Regions from separate parts of the Homo sapiens genome. Here region 1 is reported to be linked to region 2. Evidence: microRNA targets listed by miRTarBase, many of them from high-throughput screens and not tested one by one. Region 2 holds a microRNA gene; the other region holds the end of a gene's coding sequence.
What was found. The annotated mature microRNA hsa-miR-331-3p reads GCCCCUGGGCCUAUCCUAGAA and lies in region 2 at 2,733-2,753, shown strand. An mRNA with a match to its seed (bases 2 to 7 or 8) in the 3' UTR can be bound and repressed. Matches are read on the target gene's strand: a 7mer-m8 pairs with bases 2 to 8, a 7mer-A1 pairs with bases 2 to 7 and ends in A, and an 8mer does both.

Region 1 (3,666 bases), not on the chromosome of region 2:
GCCACTAGTTTGTGAATGACCAGGACTCTGATTCTCTCTCCGCCCTCTTTCCTCATTGTTTTGGGGAATATCACACAGGTTAGGTAGAGAAAATACTTTTCCCTGGAATGCTGGAATCTTTAACTGGACAATTATATTTTAGTAACTGACATCTCATGTTTCTTTGTTATAGAATAGTTGATGTTTTCCCGTATACTTAATATTAAAGTGGTTTAGTCGAGCATTTTAAAAAATTTTTAAATTTTTTTTTGAGACAGGGTCTCACTGTCTTCCAGGCTGGAGTGCATTGGTGTTATCATGGCTCACTGTAGCCTCTACCTCCCTGGGCTCAAGTGATCCTCCAACCTTAGCCTCCCAAGTAGCTGGGACCACAGATGCATACCACCACACCTGGTTAATTTTTGTATTTTTAGTAGAGACAGGGTTTCATCATGTTGCCTAGGCTGGTCTCGAACTCCTGAGATCAAGCGATTTGCCTGCCTTAGCCTCCCATAAGTGCTGGGATTACAGGCATGAGCCACTGCGCCTGGCCTACTGAAGCTTTTTAAATGTAGAGGCTTAAATAGCACTTGCCGTGGGAATTGAGAGATGCAAGTACTTTCAAAATTCAGTTGATTATTAAAGTATTTGATTAATCCATGCCAATATTTTCTCTCAATTTTCTAAGTATTCATGAATAAGTTATGTATTTATGTTGAGAGAATGATAATATATATGCTTCTCAACTTGCAATGGAATTATCTCCGGACATCATAAGTTGAAAATGTAAGTTGCAAATGCATTTAATGCACCTAACCTACCAAGCATCATAGCTTAGCCAACCTTAAACGTACTCATAACATTTACATCAGCCTACAGTTGGGCAAAATAATCTAACACAAAGCCTATTTTATAATAAGGTGTTGAATATCTCAAACATTGTACTGTACTGAAAGTGAAAACAGAATGGTTGTGTGAATACTTGAACTATAGTTTCTACTGAATACATATTTCTTTCATAGCATTGTAAAGTTGAGAAATCCCAAGTTGAACCATTGTAGATTGGGGACTGTAAAAGATTGGCTAATGTAAATATCAATGACTGTCTAAAGTTTAATAGAAATTGTGATTTTTAAATTGTGTATGGTTATAATACAAAAATCATGAAGAAGGCCAATCTGTTATTACAGTGTGTACTTAAAAAACATGCCTTCCTTGGGCCGGGCACGGGTGCCCACGCCTGTAATCCCAGCACTTTGGGAGGCCTAGGCGGGCAGATCACGACGTCAGGAGATTGAGACCATTCTGACTAACACGGTGAAACCCTGCCTCTACTAAAAATACAAAAAATTAGCCAGGCATGGTGGTACGCGCCTGTAGTCCCAGTACTCAGGAGACAGAGGAAGGAGAATCGCTTGAACCCAGGAGGCGGAGGTTACAGTGAGCCGAGATCATGCCACTGCACTCCAGCCTGGGCGACAGAGCGAGACTCCATCTCAAAAAAAAAACAACAAAAAAAAACTTTTCTTGCTATAACTTTTGGTATTAATTATATGAGAAAATGAAATCCCTAGGTTAACCATTTAGATACTGCTGGGATATGTGATCCTCCTACCTTCCTTAGTATCCTCATAAAATGTTAAGTTCTAGAAGCAGCGTTATGTATAAAAGTACAGTCAGCCGTCTGTATCTATGGGTTCTAAATCCGCTGACTCAACCTCAGATTAAAACTATTTGAAAAATAAATACTACAAATAAAACCAATACAGTATAATAACTACACATCATTTACATTGTATTCGGTATTATAAGTAACTAGAGATGATTTAAAGTATACAAATACTATGCCATTTTATATCAGAGACTTGAGCATCCATTTATTTTGCTGTTGGGGGTGGGGTGGGGGGTCCTGTAACCAATCCTCTGAGGATAACAAGGGATGACTCTATTAATATATTGATTTTATATTACAATACATACTAGTGCTCTGAAATTCCCAAACAGGCTGGTCATTGTTTTGCATTATTTTGTAATGAAATTCAAGCAGTTAATCAGCAGCAAGAAGAGTAGTGTGAGACAAAATAAGATGTTTAGTCATTGTATGATTTTTTTTTTTTTTGAGACAGAGTCTCTCTGTCGTCCAGGCTGGAGTGCAGTGGTGTGATCTCGGCTCACTGCAACCTCTGTCCCCTGGGTTCGGCTGACTGCAACCTCTGCCCCGCCGGGTTCAAGTGATTCTCCTACTTCAGCCTCCCAAGTAGCTGGGATTACAGGCGTGCACCACCACGCCTGGCTAATTTTTGTATTTTTAGTAGAGATGGGGTTTCGTCATGTTGGCCAGGCTGGTCTCAAACCCCTGACCTAAAGTGATTTGCTCACCTTGGTCTCCCAATGTGCTGGGATTACAGGCGTGAGCCATGACGCCCAGCCAGTCATTGAATAATTATTTAAAAATGAAATTTTGATGTAGTGAAACTTTGTCTTTTGTGGAAGTGCCTATGAGTCTGCAACCTGGTGGTCATTGCCAAATTGCCATTGGTTCACACTTGTAATTACCAGTAGCCAAGAGAGCCATGTGACTACTGTAAGCCCTACTGAAACCACTGACTGTTAAAACAAGTGTGTTTGTTTGACACATTGTGTGTGATCCTTGTCTACAGCCCAAATGACTGTTTTGGGTAACTCAAAGTTGAATTTAAAGATGAAAAAAGATAGGTTTCATAGTATAGGGGGAAGTGAAAGAGTGAGAGAGTTGGAAATTGTTAATCTGTAGCTAAATTCTTTATGAAATAAATGTGAAAGGATTAAGCTCATTCCGTGTAGTTCCTAGGGCGGACAAAAGGTGGAGCAGCTGTCTGAACCAGTGAATTCCTTGTCTCTGAAAATGTTCCAGCCCATAGTGAATAAACACCCTTGGGGCTGATCCAGTACTGGGAGGGGGCGAGTGGAAGACTCACAGGATCCTTTTCAATTCCGGAGGTCTATGAAGTAAAAAGCGGAAGAAGTTTTGGGAGGAATAGAGAGGGAGGGGGACATCATTTAAAAGTAAGTTTGGGCACTCATACCAATTCTCATACTTACTACTTTGTCATATGCTACCCAGTGGTTACAAACAGTAAAATGAAGTAAAAGTGCAGTACTAAGTATTAAAAATAGGCATTCAAATATTTTTCCAAATGCATGTTTTCAGCATTACCTCCAGGTAGAATATACCAGAACAACCAATTCATTTCTAAAAGGAAAATTGCATACCAATTTTCCTATCCCAATTTTCCTATTCCTATAAGAAATGAAAGAGACACAACGAGTTTTGTCAATAAAACTTTAGGAATATCTGCACATGTACATTTACATTCAAGTTGATAACACTGGTGGTTTCATTTCAATACAAATTATGCTAGAGAACTGACATTTCAGACATGGTCATATATATGCTATTTGAATTCCTTTATCTTGATACAGATCTTGATTGTGAATCTCTTGATGATAGATGTGCAGCTAATTTGTCCCGAAACTCATGAAGATAATTGTATTGCTGAAAAAAGTAAAGATACATTGGAATACACTGTAGAAAACTAGTTATCAGTGTGGGCACAATATTAGCAGGTATCAGGAATAAAAAAAAATACTTGCTAAGCACAATTCTACATCTTTTTGGGTAAGGAAGCATTTGCATCATGGGGAAGT
Region 2 (3,990 bases):
GAGTAGCTGGGACTACAGGCGCCCGCCACCACTCCGGCTATTTTTTTGTATTTTTAGTAGAGATGGGTTTTCACCGTGTTAGCCAGGATGGTCTCGATCTCCTGACCTTGTGATCTGCCGTCCTTGGCCTCCCAAAGTGCTGGGATTACAGGCATGAGCCACAGCGCCCAGCCGGCTTTTTTTTTTTTTTTTTTTTTTTTTTTAAGAGAGAAATGTATCTTCATTTCCAAGACATGAAAATAGATTAAGCCCTGAAAAATAAGAAAACATTCACTATTAATGTCACAGAGACCTGAGAAGTAATAAAATTTATAGACTATAGGCAATTATACCACAAAGAATTTATTTTTTGATTATGCTAGTTTTAAAAACAGGGTCTTTATTTTTATTCAGCTATAGTAAGCGGACGTTAAAAGCTTACCAAAAGTTATCAGTGTTAGATCTAATGATATTGGCAGATATTTGAATGACTAAATTCCCACTGTCATTCTGTACTGGGCATGATTAAATTGTAATTTAATATTTAATAATTAAGCAGGATCACTTTTCTCTCTTGAATGAAAAATAAAATTTGCACACTATAATATTTACAAGTAAAAGTCAAATCTGTATAGAAATGGATATCCTAGCATCAAACAACTTATTTTTAGCAACATGCTGATTATTTTAGTAACCATATATTGACTCATGTTTTCATTACAAAGTAACTGTCAAATCAGTCTGTTTATTTTATGACCATGCCTCATAGTCGGCATTCAGTTATCCATGCTAATGGAAGGGATCTGTGGTATAATAATCATAAAAGATAAGTGGTCCAGGCTGGGCGCGGTGGCTCACGCCTGTAATCCCAGCACTTTGGGAGGCCGAGGCAGGTGGATCACGAGGTCAGGAGTTCGAGACCAGCCTGACCAACATGGTGAAACCCCGTCTCTACTAAAAATACAAAAATTAGCCGGGCGTGGTGGTGGTACCTGCCTATAATTCTAGCTACTCAGTAGGCTGAGGCAGGAGAATCACTTGAACCCGGGAGGCGGAGGTTACAGTGAGCCGAGATTGCGCCATTGCACTCCAGCCTGGGTGACAGAGTAAGACTTCATCTCAAAAAAAAAAAAAAAAGATAGGTGGTCCAAACCAGTTTCTTGAGTTGAGACTGCCATTATAGAAGAGATAGTCAAGATACCAAAGCCAGGTCAGTGATAAAAGAAGAAAACTTCTGAGTGTAGTTGTGAGAGGAAAGTGATTCTATTCAGTGTAATTGCTGTAAACCAAAAAGAGGATTAATTGATTCAAGGATTCACACATGTAAAAGTTTAGCATGAATAAGGAGGAACTGATTTTATAGATATTCTAAAATGTGTGATAAGCTAGGACGTAGTGGCTCACACCTACAATCCTAGCACTTTGAGAGGCTGAGGCAGGAGGATCTCTTGAGGCCAGGAGTTCAAGACCAGCTTAGGCAAGAAACAGCAAGACTTGGTCTCTACAGAAAAACTTAAAAATTAGCTGGATGTGGTGGCACACACCTGTAGTCCCAGCTGCTCAGTAGGCTGAGGCAGGAGGATCACTTGAGCCCAGGAGGCCACAGCTGCAGTGAGCCATGATTGCACCACTGCACTCCAGCCTGGGCAACAGAACGAGAGACCTTGTCTCAAAAATAAATAAATGAAAATGGGCTGGGCGTGGTGGTTCACACCTGTAATCCCAGCAGTTTGGGAGGCCCAGGTGGGCGGATCACCTGAGGTCGGGAGTTCAAGAACCGCCTGACCAACATGGAGAAACCCCGTCTCTACTAAAAATACAAAATTAGCCGGATATGGTGGTTCATGCCTGTAATCCCAGCTACTCAGGAGGCTGAGGCAGGAGAATCGCTTGAACCTGGGAGTCGGAGGTTTTGGTGAGCCGAGATTGTGCCAATGCACTCCAGCCTGGGCAACAAGAGTGAAACTCTGTCTCAAAAAAAAAAAAAAAAAAAAAAAGAAGGAAAATGAAATGTGTGATAAATTAAAGTGCATATAGTATTTTTTATGGTATATATTTTAATGTATTTTAGCTTGTCAGCAATGAAATTAGTTTTATCTCTATGTATTGAACTTCATTTAGCAACATATTATTGCAATAGTACAGTATTTAAGCTGCATATTCTCTTGACTGCATTATCCTTTAAAATCAGTATATTCTGTGAGATATGGCTATGGATATATATATTTCCTCTCCTATTTATATCCTAAGATTTTCTTAAAGGATAATTTTACTGTTTTAGGCTTTATGTTTTTCAGTTTTATATCATTTCCTAAAGCTTAGCTACCTACAAATGAATATTATTGAAGAATTTTTCTAAAACTAAAGCATGTCTTTTATAAGTTTACTCTTTTATAATATCCTAAACAAAGCATATCCTTTTCCCCTTCCTTAAGTAAATTCTTAAGGAAATTAACTTCATTTCTAAATCAAAGTATTTTCTGCACTTTTATTGCACCAATCTGTTACCTTCTGTTCATACCATGACTTAAATAATGCTTACTCAGGCACAGTACTATCAGCTGACAACGTACAGAAGGCTCCAGAAATGTCACTCCCATCCCTTAAAGGTTGGTATATGGTCCTGGTACAGTCGTGGAGGTCCATATGGGTGAAAAGCCCAGAAGTCTACCTGAGCTGAAAGCACTCCCAAGGAGTTTGGTTTTGTTTGGGTTTGTTCTAGGTATGGTCCCAGGGATCCCAGATCAAACCAGGCCCCTGGGCCTATCCTAGAACCAACCTAAGCTCGCGCATCATTCCTGGAACATCAAGAGTGTGAAGACTGAAGATAACCTGAGGCCTACCAGACATCCTATATTCACCAAGATTCACATTTTTTGGTATGTGTGCCTACATTTTAGCAAAAATTGGTTGGTTAATCCTTCTAAAATTAGAGGGATGACATTGGGTAACAAAGTCTTCCCAGCCTTTGGCATTATAGTAATTTCTCGCAATAGAAATTCCATACAGATATTATTGCCAGTGAAGAGAGCTATTCTTGTTTATTATCAGTTCTATATTTTTAGCTGAAGCAACTTAGCCCTAAAAAACCCCAAAATCAACTTCTTCCTCCAAATTAAACTCTCCCCCAAATTTAATGGTTTCTGTTTTCTTAAATGTTTTTCTACTTGACACTGTTATGTCAGTCTCATGTAACTGAATAATTGTTCATAATTTCTGAAGAGCATTTAGTCTTTGCCATCTGGCTTCAGTGCCAAATGATTTTCAATTCTTGTTTTTGGAGACTAATGACTTTTTCCTTAATTTATTATCAAATTTGCCACATTTTAGAGCTCACTTTTAGAAGTTCTGCTATGGTTAATGAAAACAAGCTAGAATGACACAGTAGAAATTGGTTAATACGTCACATTTTACATCACTATTTTGTAGAAGATTTTTAGTAAGTTTCTCTATTTTTATTCCTTGCCACTCTGGATTTTACAAATATTCTGACCTAGTTGATCCATCACATGGTCTCATATCACAACTGTTGCATCGCTATATTCACATAGATGTTTTTCTGTTTAATTTAGAAGACAGTATTTCTGAAAAAGTATGAAACGACCCCAAATCCAAAAGTTATGGTGCACAATGAAAATGTATGCTTTTAATAATGCTGGCTTCTGCAGTAGGTGTAGACCATGTTTCAAATAACCACAGACTAATCAGAAACTCCACCTGTGAAAGGAACTTGAAATTGTGCTATTCCTCCAAGCTTATAACACCAGCAAATTGGGTCAATAGGTTATTCCTTTAAAATAGGACTATGAGCCTACAGAGGCTCACTCTGAAGAACTCAGCCGTGGAGTTAGTTCTGTACTATATCCATCACAACAGACATGCTTCATCCCATAGACTTCTTGACATAGCTTGAAATGAGTGAACCCATCCTTGATTTATATACATATATGTTCTCAGTATTTTGGGAGCCTTTCCACTTTTTTAAACCTTGTTCATTATGAACACTGAAAA

Region 1: miRTarBase lists CDKN3 as a target of hsa-miR-331-3p. The part of its 3' UTR that is shown has no 7-base or 8-base seed match.

The regions. Positions count from the first base shown.
Region 1 is chr14:54,419,840-54,423,505 of GRCh38, reverse strand. It overlaps CDKN3 (cyclin dependent kinase inhibitor 3), which reads right to left. Exons shown (of 8, transcript NM_005192.4): 8 at 3,288-3,514. The coding sequence ends at 3,428. Among named protein-coding and RNA genes, the nearest start is that of CNIH1, 20 kb to the left of the region's middle.
Region 2 is chr12:95,305,748-95,309,737 of GRCh38, forward strand. It overlaps MIR331 (microRNA 331), which reads left to right and starts at 2,673; the gene lies at 2,673-2,766.